4 linked regions of the Homo sapiens genome follow. The protein of the gene in region 3 purifies or fractionates together with the protein of the main gene of each other region. This does not show direct contact. Each region holds a gene or a part of one and is shown on either strand. Other genes may lie near its edges.

Region 1 (5,108 bases), about 100 Mb from region 3:
CTGAAATGAACCAGCTCTGTTTTGGGTTCTGTTCCATTCCAGACTGTTTTCTCCTTTCTTGTTTATTACATGTATGACACTAAATTATAAACACACATGTGGCCAGGCATGGTGGCTCACGCCTGTAATCCCAGCACTTTGGGAGGCCCAGGCAGGCAGATCACTTGAGGTCAAGAGTTGGAAACCAGCCTGGCCAACATGGTGAAACCCTGTCACTACTTTAAAACAAAAACAAAATTAGCCAGATGTGGTAGTGTGTTCCTGTAATCCCAAGTACTCTGGAGGCTGAGGCAGGAGAATTGCTTGAACCTGGGAGATGTAAGTTGCAGTGAGCCGAGATCGTGCCACTGCACTCCAGCCTGGGCAACAGAGCAAGACTCTGTCTCAAAAATAAAATAAAATAAACACACATATATATATAATATTTCTGGTAGAAATTTATAAATATAAGTATACAAATTGGCCAGCTATCAAGGTGCCTGCACTATTGATTAATTTATATATAGAACTCCATAATCTATGAGTCATTTCAATTTTAAAAACCTTTCTTTTTTCTGTCCTCCGGACCTTCACTAAGGTGGGCTTATGGATCCAACAATAATCTATCATGAACTTTTCTAAATCCTTAATAGTTATTCCTTCTTAAGATTAAATGCTGTGGAAAGTGAGTTATGTAGATGAAGTTACCCGTGGGCATTGCTGCATTTCCTGATCTTGTATATTCCGTGGAGAAAAAGATGGGGATGCATTTAGCATTGAAAGGTAATTGTTGGCCAGGCGCGGTGGCTCACGCCTGTAATTCCAGCACTTTGGGAGGCTGAGGCAGGCGGATCATGAGGTCAGGAGTTTGAGACCAGCATGGCCAACAAGGTGAAGCCCCGTCTCTACTAAAAGCTACAAAAATTAGCCAGGTGCAGTGGCAGGCACCTGTAATCCCAGCTGCTCAGGAGGCTGAGGCAGGAGAATCACTTCAACCCGGGAGGCAGGTTGCAGTGAGCCGAGATCGCGCCACTGCACTCCAGCCTGGGTGACAGAGTGAGACTCCGTCTCAAAAAAAAAAAAAAAAAAGGTAATTGTCCTTGGGCTTCTTCTATCAATGTGTCCTCACATATTGATATCTGATTCCCTAATGCAGCACCGTGTCATTAATGGAGGGTAAGGCAGACAATTATTATTCAGCTGTGCTGTTTAATAATATTCAACATACATCCCAAGTGGCGCAGGGTGCCTTGGCAGGCGGAGCCCCTGACAAAATGCTCCCATGTATGTCCCGTGCTCGACAGTGCTGTGTGCCTGTGAGTTTGTGCTGAAGTATGATAAACACGTTGGGTGAAAGTGACCCCTTTCAACCTCTAGCGAAACACGACCCTTTCAACCTCTCGGGAAACGCTGGGCCATAGGAGAATGGCTTGATTCCTCATTGCACTGTGAGGCTGAGTCTAGGCAGACGTTCCCATTACTAGGGACTCAAGGTGAGGACTTTCCCACAATTCACTGCTTTTATCCAGTGCTGGAACTGCCCTGTCTTCTGACCAGTGGATGCTGAGGAACTGACATTCACTGTCATTTTTCCCGTTTTATATAATTTAAGGATCACTTCCCATTTAGTGAAGTTTATCTCATTTTTAAAAGATTCTCCCTTTCTCCCCTAGGGCTACCAGGGCATGGTGGACGGAGGCTCAAACATCGCAGAGGCCGACTGGGAGAGTGTCTCCAGCATCCTGCAAGTGGTAGGTACTGGGCTGCGTCCACAGGGTTCTCTGAGTTAGAGACTCTTTTATGTCTAGTAAATTCCCAGAACACTTGAGCTCAGATCAGTTGCGAAATAGAGATTATGTGGACAGAACAGACTTTGTGAGCAGCTCTTTACTTGTGGTTTGATTTTTAGAAATGCATGTGTTAATCTGTGAGTCACTTTGAGTACTTGTTAATAGAAATAATCCAAATCGGTGCCTCCCCGCTGAAGACGCTCATGGGGCCCACACCTTCGTGCTGGTCCAGGCTCTCTCTGCATTGGGCGCCTCCTGAGCTCCGACACATCAGAAGAGAGGTGGAGGGAATTTTGACAACCACGGAAGTTAGGTGGAGCAACGTTTGCAAAACATCAGGAGAGTGTGGGCTGAATTCACACAGGGGAGCGTTTCCATTCTGCGGTCGTGATTGACGGAGGAAGATAAGATGTGAACGGAGAGTTGAAGTGCGTATGTGTATCAGTGAGTCTGTGTTTCTGTGTGTGGTGTATGTGGTGTGTGAATCTCGGTGTGTGTGTAACTGTGTGAGTCTGGTGTGTGTCTGTATGTAGGTGTGTGAGTCTGAGTGTGTATGTGTGGTGTGCCCGTGTGTATGTGTTAACTGTGTGAATTTCTGGCTAGCGAATGTGTATCTGTGTGTGGGGTGTGTGTATATGTGGTGTCCTTGTATGTGTAGGTGTGTGGTGTGTGTGTGTGTGTGTGTGTGTGTGTGAAAGAGAGTGAGTGAGAGAATGGGAATGGCACCCACTCCTCTGCAGCCCAGTTATCCTGGTTTCGTTCCTGAGTTGCGGCCACCTCGTCTCTTTGGTTGGAGTTTCTGGGTTGCTGGCTCTAGCTCCCATTGTGCTGGCTCTCGTGCTGCCCCCCAGGTTTTTGTCCAGGCAGAGTCCAGAGAGCACCCCTGCCCTGCTCTGCGCCCCCACCCTCACTTGCCTTGGGGGTTGGGTTGTAAATGGTCTCGGTCACACTTGGTGCCAGTGACGTAGGATCGTGTGGAGTGAATTTCAGTTTTTGTAACCTTTTCATAATGTTTTGATAAATTAAATGGTGGTAGGTTTCATGTAAAAATAGGAGCTTTTCTGGGATTTGGAATATTAGTGAGTCTCTGTGTGTGAAAATGAGCTGTGTGCGTGCACCATTGGTGTATCGAAACACGCACTCACGTCACTGCAGGGGTCTCCTGGGAGCTGCCTGCAGACCGAAGGCAGGGAGAGCTTCGCCTCCAGTGCAGAGACAACCCCTGCTGTGCTTATGAGCACCTTGCTTGACAAAGTCAGCACGCGCTTAGGGATCCCGTACGGATGGAGTTTTTTGGTGCATTCATGGTTTTATTTAAAGAAATCTTGCATTTGTGGATCCCACCAACAATTCTTAGTTTTTGGAAAACCAAGTGTGACGAATCATGATCTATGTCCCCTGGAAGTTTGGATGAAAGAATTTAAGATCCTGAAGATATAGCTCTTTAAAAGGGGCAGCGAGTATGTGGTGCAAAAAAAAAAAAAAAAAAAATCCCCCTGGCCCCAGGTTCCTGCTGGTTTTACTTGCAGGTGCTGTAAGGGGTGACTGGAGGGAGAAGCCTGGCTGCTGGTCACACCGCTTCCCTTGTCCTGGCCGGCATGCTCTGGTGGTCAGTGGGCTTGTCTTTGGTTCCACGTGCACCTGGTTGAGCTCGTTGGCCGGTGCTGAGGCGGCTGCTGTGACACCGCAGGCTGGTTCCTGCTCCATGTATTTAACTGCTGGCTGCCGTGTGTCTGGCTCTGCACCCTCCCTGGCTCCTCCTGGGTGTCACGCGCCTGTCTTTGTCCATGGAATGCTGGTCTGGGACTAAAAACAGGAAAATCACAGTCTTTCATAGCTAGTTACTAACTCACAAGATGAAAATGAGAAAAATGTAAATTCTAGCACCCCATGTTTATAGTCGGCCTGTGTGTGCCATCCACCTGGCGCTCTCTCAGACTGAGAGGAGATAAATTAGCTGGTGTCTTTCCCAGGGCGGGACGATCATTGGCAGTGCGCGGTGCCAGGCCTTCCGCACGCGGGAAGGCCGCCTGAAGGCTGCTTGCAACCTGCTGCAGCGCGGCATCACCAACCTGTGTGTGATCGGCGGGGACGGGAGCCTCACCGGGGCCAACCTCTTCCGGAAGGAGTGGAGTGGGCTGCTGGAGGAGCTGGCCAGGAACGGTGAGTGGACACCTGCTCCTCTGTCCTGCGGGTTTTCGCCCTGTTTCAGAGCTTTGGAACCGACAGGTTTCCCTCTTCACTGTGGCAGAAGTACCTCTTCTCACAGATCTTACAGGTCACCATCTCAGGACTTTTTAGGATCTCAAAAAACAACAGCAATGATCGTAAGAATGCTAGTAATTTAACCTTACCATGTGCCAGGCACCCTTCGACCTTTCACACAGATAGCTTTATGGAATCCTCACGACAGCCATCTAAGCCAGGTTTTAGATCATCCCATTTACAGATGAGGAATCAAACGGCCACTCAGCCGTGGGGCGAGCCGGGTCCCCAGCAGCCTGGGACACTAGCATCCGCCTTTCAGCCCTCACACTGTGTCCCTCCAGCTCGCTGGGGTCCTTTAAAACTGAAGTTGGGCCGGGCGCGGTGGCTCACGCCTGTAATCCCAGCACTTTGGGAGGCCGAGGCGGGCGGATCACGAGGTCAGGAGATCGAGACCATCCCGGCTAAAACGGTGAAACCCCGTCTCTACTAAAAATACAAAAAATTAGCCGGGCGTAGTGGCGGGCGCCTGTAGTCCCAGCTACTTGGGAGGCTGAGGCAGGAGAATGGCGTGAACCCGGGAGGCGGAGCTTGCAGTGAGCCGAGGTCCCGCCACTGCACTCCAGCCTGGGCGACAGAGCGAGACTCTGTCTCAAAAAAAAAAAAAAAAAAAAAAACTGAAGTTGCCACAGGACTTTAATTTATTTAGACGATAAATCTCTGCCAATACATCATCCAGTACCAACTTTGGCACTACTTAGGAAAGCGTTTCTGAGAGCCCTGTGTGTATGTGGTTTATTTTTGTTTTGTTTGATTGTTTGATTTTGTTTGTTTTGAGACAGAGTCTTTCTCCATTGCCCAGGCTGGAGTGCAGTGGCACGATCTCGGCTCACTGCAACATCTGCCTCCTGGGTTCAAGCAATTCTCCTGCCTCAGCCTCCCAAGCAGCTGGGATTACAGGCATGCGCCACCACACCCAGCTTTTTTAAAATTTTTTTATTTATTTTTTATTTTTAGTAGAGATAGGGTTTCGCCATGTTGGCCAGGCTGGTCTCGAACTCCTGACCTCAGGTCATCCACCCGCTTCGGCCTCCCAAAGTGTAGTTTTTCTCCCTTGAAGCGGTTATGTAATTT
Region 2 (3,500 bases), about 34 Mb from region 3:
CTATAATCTCAGCCACTTGGGAGGCTGAGGCAGGAGAATTACTTGAACTCAAGAGGTGGAGGTTGCAGTGAGCCGAGATCACGCCACTGCACTCCAGCCTGGACAACAGAGCGAGACTCCATCTCAAAAAAAAAAAAAAGACAGAATCTTGCTCTGTCACCCAGGCTGGAGTACAGTGGTTCGATGATAGCTCACTGCAACCTCAAACTCCTGGGCTCAAGCGACCCTCCTGCCTCAATCTCCCAAGTAGCTAAAACTACAGTGTGTGCCACATCTGGCAAATTTTTTAATTTTTTGTAGTGATGAGGTCTTCCTGTGTTGCGCAGGCTGGTCTCAAACTCCTGGGCTCAAGTGATCCTCCAGCCTCAGCCTCCCAAAGTGCTGGGATTACAGGCATACCAAGCTTCTTATATCCTTTTGCAGTCAAGCATTCTGACGCATGAATTTAGCAAACATAATTTTGTATGTTTAGTCTCTTTTATGTGATATCTAATGTTATTTCAACTTTTTTAATGTTATAAAAGCACTTTATTAATGGATTTTTTTTTTTTTTGAGACAGGGTCTCACTGTCGCCCAGGCCGGAGTGCAGTGGCGTGATCTCAGTTCACTGCAGCCTCTGCCTCCCAGGTTCAAACGATTCTCCTGCCTCAGTCTCCTGAGTAGCTGGGACTACAGGCGTGCGCCACCATGCCTGCTGTTTTGTATTTTTAGTAGAGATGGGATTTCACCATGTTGCCCAAGCTGGTCTCGAATTCCTGATCTCAAGTGATCCACCTGCCTCGGCCTCCCAAAATGCTGGGATTACAGGCATGAGCCACCATGCTCAGCCGTATTAATGGATTTTTAAAGCAGATAGCTGTGACAAATAGTAATCCACAAGAAAATATTGTGCCTGATTATTTCCCTTTCATATTAAAAAAAAGTTTATTAAGGAAACAGATGGTAACACAGTGGCTTGTCACCTTTGCAGGCTGTGACCCCTAAAGTGAGAGTTTTCAATGTTGGCTCCCCAGACCCCTAAAAGTTCTACAGCATCTCTTTTGTGCTACTGCAGTGGGGAGGAGGAAGAATCTGTAGTGGAGTGGGCTCTGGGTCCTTCTAACCTGCTTAACCAGAGTAACTCAATCAATTTTTATATGCTGCATTTTCAGAAGGGTTTCACGGGTTAAAAAAAAAAAAAATCATTGAAAAACCATTGCCCTGAAGCAGTGGTTCTCAAAGTACAGTATAGTACTTAGACCAGCAGCATTTAAGCATCACCCAGGCAGGATCTTATTAAAAATGCAAATTCCTAGGCCCCACCCCAGAACTACTAAATCAGAGCCTGGATGCCCAGTCTGCTGTGCTTTCATGAGCTCTCCAGATTTTGATGGGTGCTAACATTTGAGAACCATTGCTTCAAAGATTTCAGATGTTTTGTTAAAGTAGTTCTTGTTTCCTTCAAGTAGTGCTATTTTCATGGAAAACTAAAATAGAATGTTTAGATTATAAATACAAAAACATGCAAATAGTATTTTAGGATAACACTAGAATAATATTTCCTTTATAATTGTATTTAGACTAGGTGGCCATTATGTCCTATACAAGGATTATTTTTTTAAAACCCTGAAGTCTTTAATATGCAATAATTTCAGCTATGAGGTGACTTCCCAGATGGCTCTATAGAGAAGTTCTAGGGCACAGTGAAGAGTCACACCAATATTACGAATGAGGGATTCTTACTATCAATTCTTAACTAGTTTCAATCAAAACTTAAAACTCATCTGACATGTAACATACCTCTTTCATATACTGATTATATAGTGCTTCTGATGACTCTAGGTAAGCCTGTGCAGTTTCAATTTCTTCTCTTTCAGACCACAAGATACCCAGGTTATTCTGGAAAATAAAGAAAAAGAGAAACAAACAATGATATAAGACTTCCAATTAAAGTAACTTTCATAGTTTTGAAGTCAATACTTATAACCAACCAAATAGTAGAGTTGGATTACCAATGAATTAATTATTCACAATGATATTGACCTTATGTAGTGCAGCAGGTAGCTGCTAAAATTAACCCCCAATGATCCCTGCTTCGGGGTATTCATGCTCTTAGGTAACCTCTTCCCCTTGAGTACAGGCTGGTTTTAGTGATGTGCTTCTCACGACTAGACTATCACAGAAGTGATGGAAAGTCATTTCCAAGATTAGTTAACAAAACCCTTGATTTCCATTTTGGATGCTATCTATTGCCTGCTTTTTTTTTTTTTTTTTTTTTGAGACGGAGTCTCGCTCTGTCGCCCAGGATGGAGTGCAGTGGCATGGTCTCAGCTCACTGCAAGCTCTGCCTCCCAGGTTCATACCATTCTTCTGCCTCAGCCTCCCAAGTAGCTGGGACTACAGGCGCCCGCAATCACGCCCGGCTAATTTTTTGTATTTTTAGTAGAGACGGGGTTTCACCGTTTTAGCCAGGATGGTCTCAATCTCCTGACCTCATGATCCACCCACCTCAGCCTCCCAAAGTGCTGGGATTACAGGCGTCAGCCACCGCGCCCGGTCAATTGCCTGCTCCTTCTTAAGGAAGCCAACTGCCATGTTGTGAGCCACCCTATGGAGAAGCCCATATGGAAAGGAAATGAGAGAGGTCAACAGTCTGAGGCCCTCAGTCAAAAAGCCTGTGAGGAACTGAATCCTGCCAACAACCATGTGAGTAAGTTGGAAATGGATCCTCCCGGCGTCCCAGTCTTCAAGTATTACTGCGAGCCCCAGCAGGTCAACAATATGATGTGGGCCTTTGAGTAAGGAACAATCAGCTAAGCCATGGTGAGATTCTGAGATAATAGACAAAGATGGATCAGAAACATATAATACTTTCAAAATACTATGCTCTTCCAGAGAACTTTTTTTTTAAAAAAAAAAGAAATAGGCCAGGCATGGTGGCTCACGCCTGTAATTCTAGCACTTTGGGAGGCCGAGGCAGGCAGATCACTTGAGGCGAGAAGTTCAAGACCGGCCTGGCCAAAATGGTGAAACCCCATCTCTACTAAAAACATAAAAATTAGCCAGGAGTGGTGGCGTGCACCTGTAATCCCAGCTGCTTGGGGGGCTGAGGCACGAGAACTGCCTGAACCTGGGAGGCAGAGGTTGCAGTGAGCCGAGATCGTGCCATTGCACTCCTACCTGGGTGATGGAGCAAGACTCTGTCTCAAAAACAAAACCAAAACCAAAAAATTATATATATGGGCCCGGCACAGTGGCTCACACCTGTAATCCCAGCACTTTGGGAGGCCGAAGTAGGCAGATCACTTGAGGTCAGGAGTTCGAGACCAGCCTGGCCAACGTGGTGAAACCCCATCTCTACTGAAAAATACAAAAAAAATTTAGCCGAGTGTGGTGGCAGATGCCTGTAATCCCAACTACTTGGGAGGCTGAGGCAGAAGAATTGCTTGAACCCAGGAGGTGGAGGTTACAGTGAGCCGAGATCGTGCCACTGCACTCCAGCCTGGGCTACAGATTGAGA
Region 3 (5,108 bases):
GGCTAATTTTTTATTTTATTTTATTTTTAGTAGAGATGGAGTTTCTTCATTTTGGCCAAGCTGGTCTTGAACTCCTGACCTTGTAATCTACCCGCCTCAGCCTCCCAAAGTGCTGGGATTACAGATGTGAGCCACTGCAACTGGCCTTTTTTATTTTTTTAAGGTGGAGTCTCTCTGTGTTGCCCAAGCTGGAGTGTAGAGGTGCGCTCTCAGCGTACTGCAACTTCCGCCTGCTGGGTTTAAGCGATTCTCCTGCCTCAGCCTCCCTAGTAGCTGGGATTACAGGTATGCGCCACCATGCCTAGCTAATTTTTGTATTTTTAGTAGAGACAGGTTTTGCCCTGTTGGCCAGGCTGGTCTTGAACTCCTGACCTCAGGTGATCCGCCCACCTCAGCCTCCCAGAGTGCTGGGATTATAGGCGTGAACCACCGCCCCTGGCCTAACATTAGAATCTTTCACAAATCTGGTCAGTAAATGCCTTTTTTTTTTTTTTTTTGAGACGGAGTCTTGCTCTGTCACCCAGGCTGGAGTGCAGTGGCTCCATGTCAGCTCACTGCAGCCTCCATCTCCCGGGTTCAAGCTGTTCCTCTGCCTCAGCCTCCCTAGTGCTGGGATTACAGGCATGTGCCACCACGCCTGGCTATTTTTTTGTATTTTTAGTAGAGACGGGGTTTCACTGTGTTAGCCAGGATGGTCTCGATCTCTGTACCTTGTGATCCGCCCGCCTCGGCCTCCCAAAGTGCTGGGATTACAGGCATGAGCCACCGCACCCAGCCAGTAAATGCCATTTTTTTAAGCCTTGAATTACTCGTTTACTTTTGAAGTAGGTTTGGTGAAATAAATCTTGAATTAATTCTCTCTAGGTCTGAGAGCTTCCAGGAAGAAAGGAAACAAACCTATAGCTATAGTTGTCCTTATATTTAGGATACTTTAATTGACGTGATAAATGTGTGAAATTGTTACAGCCTCTGATACGTAATGGACGCTATGAGGTTTTGACTCCAAAAGTAGAAGCCTATTACTCATTCCTGCAAACATCAAGTACTGTATTGTGCTAAGGCTTCAAGTATTCAAACATCTTGCACTCAAGCATTATAAACAGTTTATATTGACCAATTTCCATGTCTCAGCCACTGTTCTTAGCACCTTACATCCTTGTTCCAACTCTACCTGTTTTGCAATGGAAGAAACTGTAGTGCTTATAATTTGCTTAGTCGTAGAGCTAGTTGGTGTTAGAGCCAGGTTTTGAACGCAGGCAGTGTGGCTCCAGAATCCGTACTCTTAACCACAGTATAATTCTGTGACTTCAAATTATCTAACTTCTCTTTCCTGTTTACTTCTTCGTAAAATGAGGATAATAGTACCTAACATATAGGGTTGTTCTGAAAAGTCAGTGAGTTAAAATATGTACTATGCTGCTTAGAATCATACATGAAAAATAGTAAGTACTCAATAAATGTCAGCTGTTATTATGTTAGCATTATTAAGGCATCGAACTCATGCATATCTCTGAATTTTAACCAAATAGGTGGACTAAACCTTAAGTATGAATTTATATATTAAAAGGTAGAAATACTGTGGTCTGTGGTTATTTATGCCTTTCCGATTTTATCTTTTTAAATTATTTTGTAACAGGAAAAATAAGAGCTAAACCAAAGTTGAATGGTGAGCAGGAGTTCATTGGTAAGAGAATGAGTTCTTTCCTGAAATAAAGCAGTTTTTTACCTGCTTTTTTTTTTTTTTCCTTTTTTTTTTTTTTGGAGACAGGGTCTTTGTCTGTTGTCCAGGCTGGAGTGTGCAGTGGTGCGATCTTGGCTCACGCAATCTCTGCCTTCCCGGCTCAAGCAATCTTCCTACCTCAGCCTCCCGAGTAGCTGGGTCTACAGGCACCCGTCACCATGCCTGTCTAATTTTTGCATGTTTTTATAGAGATGGGGGTTTTGCCATGTTGCTTAGGCTGGTCTCGAACTCCTAGGCTCAAGGGATCCGCCTGGCTTGGCCTCCCAGAGTGGTGGGATTATAGGTGTGAGCCACTGCACCTTGCCCTATGTATTTTTTTTTTTTAAAGGAGTATTCAGGAGTCATTACTAAAGGTGCAAAGTATTATATATCGTCTGAATGTAAAAATTGTACAGCTGGTTTATACCTTTATGCTTTTGAAGACCTCAGTTAATTATGGCAACGTTTTGAAGAAATAGCTCAGTCTTTTAAAATGTTTTCCTTACATGCTCTCTTGTTCCTTTGTGTCAATAACCATGTTATTGTTGAAGGTCCGGTATTATTCAAAACATTCAGTTAGAAGCAGCCTTAATGTGTTGATGTAGAACAAATATATAGCATTCTATGTGATATGGCAGGATAGTAGCAATAGAATGTTGATGAGAACATAGCAAAATTAGTCTTTTTTGTATATTTTCAAAAGTTTAGGAACAGATGAAATAAATTTGTAGTTTCTAGTTACAATTTCAGACTACAGATAGGAGCATGTAGCTGCTTGAAGAAGAAAAACAAATTGTCAAGGCAACAGGTACTGCATTTCTCACTCGACAAGTTCTCTCTTCTCAACTTTGTTATTTTTCCTTCGGAGAACAAGGAAGCTTTTGTTCCGAGGCCTGATGTTGAAATGTTAGCAAAATATTATGTTAATCAAGCCAAGAATCTTATGTATTTGTGAACCAAGAATAAGATTTCACAAAGATTCATTTAGAGTATTAAAAGGGACTTCTGCAGTTATTCTTGCATTTTCAGGCTTACACAAAAATAGGCTTCTGAAAAGCAAAGGGCTCCATGTGTAGACGTTTAATGGTTCATTTATTTCTGTCTGTTAAGTCTACTGTGCGAGATGCTGGGGATACAGCAGCAAATAAAACACTCCTCTCCCTTATGGAGCTTATATTTTGGAGAGATTGACAGAATGCAAACTGTCAAATGTAAGGGTTATGTGCAAAAAACAAGTAAAGCAGGGTAAGAGGACAGTGAGTGATGTGTGTGGGTAAGTGTGATGTTATTAGTTGGAGTTTGTTAACTGTTGGCATCACTTTGGTGTGTGAACTATTGAGTGTTGGCCTTTGACAGGAATGTGTAGTGCAGTTTGGGACAAGTGACATAAAGAACTCTGAATGAAAATAATGAAATGAAAAATAAACAAAAAAACTTGTTTATAGGCTGGGCACGGTGGCACATTCCTGTAATTCCAGCACTTTGGGAGGCAGGTGGATCACTTGAGGTCAGGAATTCGAGACCAGCCTAACCAACACGGTGAAACCCCGTCTGTACTAAAAATACAAAATTAGCCGGGCGTGGTGGCTCATGCCTGTAATCCCAGCTACTTGGGAGGCTGACGCAGGAGAATCGCTTGAATCTGGGAGGCGGAGGTTGCATTGAGCCGAGATCGCGTCATTGCACTCCAGCCTGGGCAACAAGAGTGAAACTCTGTCTCAAAAAAACTAAAAAAAAAAAAAACCAAAAACTTATCATGAACTATTTAAAAGATGAGAGGTAATGAAACATTTAAGATAATTTAAATGCAACAGTTTCAAGGAGCCTTCTGGAAAAATAGGCATTTCTTCATCTTAAACTATTTTATTTTTTAATTTTTATAGATTTAGGGGGTACAGTTTTGGATATATAGCATAGCAGTGGTCTGGCTTTTTAGTGTAACCATCACCTGAATAGTGTACATTGTACTCATCAGGTAATTTCTCATCCCTCACCCTCCTCCCACCCCCACTTAAAGTATATATATATGTGTGTGTGTATGTGTGTATGTATATGTATATATATATATATGGCGTGAACCCAGGAGGCAGAGCTTGCAGTGAGCTGAGATGGTGCCACTGTACTCCAGCCTGGAAGACAGAGCGAAAGAGACTTCGTCTTTAAAAAAAAAAAAAAAAAAAAGCATTTGTTTAATTATTTTTGCAGTAGAAGAAAAGAAAGGAAGAATGATGCAGAGGCAATATTGAGAGGGATTTGGGGCAGGAATTTTTCAAAATTCATTAGAGTTATTAAAGAACAGTTTAAAACTAGTAATTCCAAGAAGGAGGGATAGATTGTTAAAAAAAAAAAAAAAAAGCTAATAATTTCAGGAAAGAGGGGAGGGAAGGAGTGTGTGATATATATATATATATATATATATATATATATCACACACACACATATATATATATCTCCTTTCATGTGTTTTGTGATGATAAGGAGTAAAGGTTACAAAATACTTAAAAAAGCTATAGCTTATTTCACAGTGCTATTCTTTGAGTTATAGGTGACACTGTTAACTACAAATATGAGGATTTAGTTTTTCAGCAGTACTGGTAGATGAATTAAAGTAAACTTGCATCTGACTTTCCATGTTTTTAAGGGGATGTATTTGTAAGTAAGTTGGTCTGTGGCTATGTTACAGAGAGGCCCTTAAGCACAATATAATGATAAAACCAAATGTCTAACTACTATAGGTTATTGATTTTACTTGCTTATCTGCCAAGGACTAGGGTTATCAAAGACTGAATAAAATGTGGCTATTTAGTACAATATGAGGCATACAAATGGAGGATATAGCTTTAACTTTTGTTTTTCCATAAACTAGTTTAACATGAGTAATATGCAGTGAAAGTTGTTGTATTTAGAGACCAAAATAAGTTTCAGGCTGGTGAGAAAATTTGAAGAAATTATTCAAAATTATCCTTTCCATGTAAGTTTTAGGGCAGTGTTCTTAGAATGAGAATGAATGGTTGATTATAAAACTTAAAAATGCCAAGTTTAGTTTTTTTTTTTTGAGATGGAGTCTTGCTCTGTCACCCAGGCTAGAGTACAGTGGCGGGATCTCGGCTCACTGCAAGCTCTGCCTCCTGGGTTCAAGTGATTCTCCTGCCTCACCCTCCCAAGTTGCTGGGATTATGGGTGCCTGCCACCACGCCTGGCTACTTTTTATATTTTTAGTAGACAGGGTTTCACCATGTTGGCCAGGCTGGTCTTGAACTCCTGACCTCAGATGATCCACCCGCCTCGGCTTCCCAAAGTGCTGGGATTACAGGTGTGAGCCACCCAGGTTTTGTATTTTAAATACAAAATTAAAATTTGAGTGAAGTAGAAACTACTGATTATTCAT
Region 4 (4,268 bases), about 35 Mb from region 3:
CTTCCGTCTTGTTTTCCTCCCCCCTCCCAAAGTAAGGTAAACACAGAGTAAATTATGCATTTAAAATCTATCCAGGGTGGCTGAACAGAATTTATTAAAGAGGACCTGCACACTACACACTCTGTACCAAAGATTTATATACTGCAGGCTGATTTTCTTTATTGTTTTATATCGTCATACAAAATAAGGTTTTATAATACTAGTAGTAAAAAAAAAGAAACCACAACATAAAGTACTTAGAACCATACAAATATACACATATAATGGAAATACATAACTTCTACTTTGCTTTTAAAGCTTGATAAACATATAGTTACAACTAGAGAAATTATACGATGATTCAAATTTAAAATGATATAATTATTAAAAATAGCAAATTTTAAAAACATTTCAACTTACCTGGTTTCTTTCTGGATTTTTCATGACCTAGCTGTCCTAGATCATTACATCCACATGTGTACACTGTTCCATCATCCAGAACAAACACAGTATGTCTGAGTCCACATCCTACATCTCGGACCCTTTTATTTATAAAGAAGTCACTTTTTCTGGGCTCTAGTACAATTTCTTCATCAATTCCACCCAAACCTAGCTGCCCAAAGGATGCATTTCCCCAGCACAACATGCTTGTAATTATTTTGGTCTTCCAGTTTCAATAAAAAATTCTCTTCTGAAACCCCGGAAAGTTGGAGGTACCCTATGTCTGAGGAAATAGAAAGAAGTTAATATGACTTCAAAGAAAAAAGGATGTATAATTGCTCTTTCAAGTGCTAGGCTACAATAATTGCTACATGGTAAACATTAAATATACTTTATAACATGCTACATAAGTATCATTCAGTTTCAAAAACCAATCAGTTGTATTTTTTAAAATGTATCATACAGAAATTTTTAGGGAAAATATGACACTTTCTATGATCCTTTGCAAAATTTAAAACATATTAACTAGTTTTGACTTCTGGTTATCTTGTGATAGACTAAACTAATAGGAATAAGTACCTTGATGAAATTAATCACAATTTTTTCTACTTTTTGCTTTAAATAATTTCAATGGGAACAAGAAATAAGACATCTTTCCTCTGCCCAAAAAGCAAATATACACAGTGCAAAATTTAGCCAACTGCAGAAACATAACCTTGCAATCCTAGTATAATTAAGCTTTCTAATACCTACCTCCACATCAACAGAAAATGGAGTTCTTATCTGTAACAGAAATAAAACCAATAATGGAAATTTAAAGCAATTTTCCACAATTTAAACGACTCTCCCAATTACTCTTTAGCCCAGAGAGAAAATGAAGATTCTCTTACCAAACCATAATCTTAAATCACCTCCAAAGATCCCAGATTTCAAATCAAAATACTAACATTCCAACCTCACTAATTTTAAAACTAAATCAATGTGCATAATTATAATACAGAAAAAAAAACATGCAATTTAAATATCAATTCTCTCCAAAATTCAACCTCTTTTATTACAAGTGGTAACCGGGATTAAAAAAATCACCCGTGGGCAATCTATATCTATCTATATCTCTGAGACAATTATTTAAAGATTGGCGGGGGGGAATTGCAAATAACTCCAGCACTGCAGATTTTTCAAGAATAGGAATGGATAGTCTGATGGCGAAATCTGTAGAACTTTCCAGCACACTGACTGAATATTTCCTCACTTGTAAAGAAAGACACAAATAACAGAGTCCACTTCATCTATACATACGTAGACTTTTAAACACATCGCGTTACTAAATATCATAATTACAGGAAGTCAGCCTTATTCTGTAGCAGTCATCCACATTCTTACAGAGCCTGCGAAGTTTCAACTCCAATTTTCCTATGTTCCTGTTAGCAAGTGCCCAAGGTGTCCCATTCCACGACCCATCATCCCATTAACAGAAGTTTGATTTCATTCTTTTGGGGTATCAGAACTCGATAATTCCCAAGAGTTCTGCATTGTCTTCCCATATTTAAAAACAAAATAAGAGTAATACAGGAAAATACCCCGACTTCAGCGCGCGAGGTTTAACCACCCTTTTCTTTAAAACACAGAGGCGTCCTCTCGCCAGCAACAGGTAGGGAAATGAGAAGCAGTTTAGTCCCGTCTTTCCCTGAACGTGCACCCAGATCAGCTCATGGGGACTGGGAAAGAGAAATCATCTGCACACACCCAACCTCGCAGCCAAGCAGACGACTACCGCAACCGGCCGCTCGCAACAGCTTCAGAGGCCGGCGGCCGAGGCTTGGCAGTGCGCGGCCTCAACCTGAGAGAAGCCCATCCCCAGGCAGATGAGACATTCCAGCCCCGGGGCCAGGGAGCCACAGCCCTGCCCTCGCCCCACGCCCCTCACCCCCAGGAAGCGCGGAGAAAGCGCCCTATGCCGGGCCGGCCTGCATCCGCCCAGCCCGGCCTGCCCCTCCCTAACGCCGTCACACGCCCCCGAACCCGCTGGGGCCACAACTCGCCCAAGCCCTTCAGGGTAGGGGAAGCCCAAGGTGACGGGGGGCGGCCCCTGCCCAGAGAGCAAGGCAGCGCGGTCGCTGAAGCACGTCTCCGGCTCCTGGGACCCTCCTCTGTCAGCCAGTGGCGACGATCACCAGGGCACCTCCGGCGTCTGTGCCGCTGCTCCGCTGCTCCCCTCCCCGGCCCCTGGGAAACTTTACCGGGTTCCTTAGAGAAAAGCGGACGCCACTGCTGTCCAGTCCAGAGACAGCCGTCAGCGACCCGGATGGAGCGGGCGGGGAAGAACGGGAGGCAAGCGGGGCGGAGAGCACCAGGGGTGGGGAGAGTTGGGGAAGAGACTGGGTAGGAGAAGGCAGAGGGGGAGGTGGCCACGCGAGGGAGGCGGGGGAGGGGCTGGCCGGAAGTGAACCGCAGAGCACGCGCGCGAGCCCGCCCACTTCCCGGCCCCGGCACCGGCGCCTGCGCCGAATCTTCCGGGGGGGGGGGGGGGGGGGTGGCTGGCCACAGGCGCCTGCGCAGTGTGCCGCTTTGCGTTGCTTTAAGAGGGAAAAGCCAAATACAGAAAGTTGGAGTTTGCGAAGACAAACGAAGAAGATGTCAACTGTTTTTGAGAATGCTTCGGCGTGCACAAAGCCTTTTAATGAAGAAAATCACTTTGTTTTTTGGTTTGGTTGTCTTTGTGCTCATGGATGCTAGCTAGTCTTTTTATTATTTTACTCTCTCTTTTCCCAAGGAGATTTTAAAGTAGCAGATGAAACATCACAATTATGAACATAAAGACTGGTGAAGAGTTATTTTATCCCATGGCCTCAACTGGAGCCAGTCTGAGGATGTGAGATGTGTTGATGGCAATGGCTGAAGCTACTCTACTACCACCACCACCAGTTCAGTTTCCTTGTACAGTGTTGGCTACCATCACTTTCTACACTCTCCCTGAAAGATAGGCTTGAATTGCAGGGTCTCATTCTATCAGAGAAAATTACACATTGGCTGCAGTCCCTGATTCATAAAAACGAAGTCTGGATCTCCTAGGCCAGCCTTAACTTCTTAAAAAGCAGGAGAACTTGAAACAATGCACTTTTGAAATTGTAAGTTGGGTATTGCTAGAATGAATATTCAGTACCTAGAAGAAGTTCCACAAATAGGCCATCTTTCTTTTTCTTTTCTTATTTTTATTTATTTATTTATTTATTTATTTATTGAGACAGAGTCTCGCTCTGTTCCCCAAGGCTGGAGTGCAATGGTGCGATCTCAGTTCACTGGAACTTCCGCCTTAGCCTCCTGAGTAGCTGGGACAACGGGCATGCGCCGCCATGCCCGGCTAATTTTTGCATTTTTAGTAGAGACAAGGTTTCGCCATATTGGCCAGGCTGGTCTCAAACTCGTTACCTCAGGCGATCCACCCGCCTCGGCCTCCCAAAGTGCTGGAATTACAGGCGTGAGCCACCGGTCCTGGCCTGTTTCTTTATCTCTTGTTGAAAAACATGTTTTAGATAAGAACTGTCTGTGCTAGAATATGTTCAAGTGTGTGTATTCGTGTCCTAGGCTTGCCATATAAATTAAAACAGATTCGGTGGCTTAAAACAACAGAAATTTATTGTCTCACAGTTCTGAAGACCAGTTCAAAATCAAGGTGAAAGTAAGCTTGGTTCTCTCTTGGGGTCTCTGAGAGATAATCTTTTCCAGGCTTCTCTGCTAGCTTCTGGTGGTTGCCAACAATCCTTGGCAATCCTTGTAGAAGCATCCCTCTTCACCTTGTTTTCCCTGTGTGTCTGTCCAAATTTCCCTCTTTTATAAGGACACCAGAT

The links.
Region 1: the proteins of NT5C2 (region 3) and PFKP fractionate together in Homo sapiens (co-fractionation; one large-scale study listed by BioGRID). This does not show direct contact.
Region 2: the proteins of NT5C2 (region 3) and KIFBP fractionate together in Homo sapiens (co-fractionation; one large-scale study listed by BioGRID). This does not show direct contact.
Region 4: the proteins of NT5C2 (region 3) and HERC4 fractionate together in Homo sapiens (co-fractionation; one large-scale study listed by BioGRID). This does not show direct contact.

The regions. Positions count from the first base shown.
Region 1 is NC_000010.11:3,097,623-3,102,730, forward strand, and holds part of PFKP (ATP-dependent 6-phosphofructokinase, platelet type), read left to right. Parts: intron 1-1,652; coding exon 1,653-1,730; intron 1,731-3,298; coding exon of another isoform or gene 3,299-3,378; intron 3,379-3,742; coding exon 3,743-3,932; intron 3,933-5,108. UniProt on the Homo sapiens protein: Catalyzes the phosphorylation of D-fructose 6-phosphate to fructose 1,6-bisphosphate by ATP, the first committing step of glycolysis.
Region 2 is NC_000010.11:68,998,803-69,002,302, reverse strand, and holds part of KIFBP (KIF-binding protein), read right to left. Parts: intron 1,880-3,500; coding exon 1,781-1,879; intron 1-1,780. UniProt on the Homo sapiens protein: Activator of KIF1B plus-end-directed microtubule motor activity. Required for organization of axonal microtubules, and axonal outgrowth and maintenance during peripheral and central nervous system development.
Region 3 is NC_000010.11:103,182,302-103,187,409, reverse strand, and holds part of NT5C2 (cytosolic purine 5'-nucleotidase), read left to right. Parts: intron 1-163; exon of another isoform or gene 164-285; intron 286-5,108. UniProt on the Homo sapiens protein: Broad specificity cytosolic 5'-nucleotidase that catalyzes the dephosphorylation of 6-hydroxypurine nucleoside 5'-monophosphates.
Region 4 is NC_000010.11:68,072,484-68,076,751, forward strand, and holds the start of HERC4 (probable E3 ubiquitin-protein ligase HERC4), read right to left. Parts: upstream 2,801-4,268; 5' UTR 2,661-2,800; exon of another isoform or gene 1,204-2,660; 5' UTR 1,174-1,203; exon of another isoform or gene 704-1,173; 5' UTR 626-703; coding exon 400-625; intron 1-399. UniProt on the Homo sapiens protein: Probable E3 ubiquitin-protein ligase involved in either protein trafficking or in the distribution of cellular structures. Required for spermatozoon maturation and fertility, and for the removal of the cytoplasmic droplet of the spermatozoon.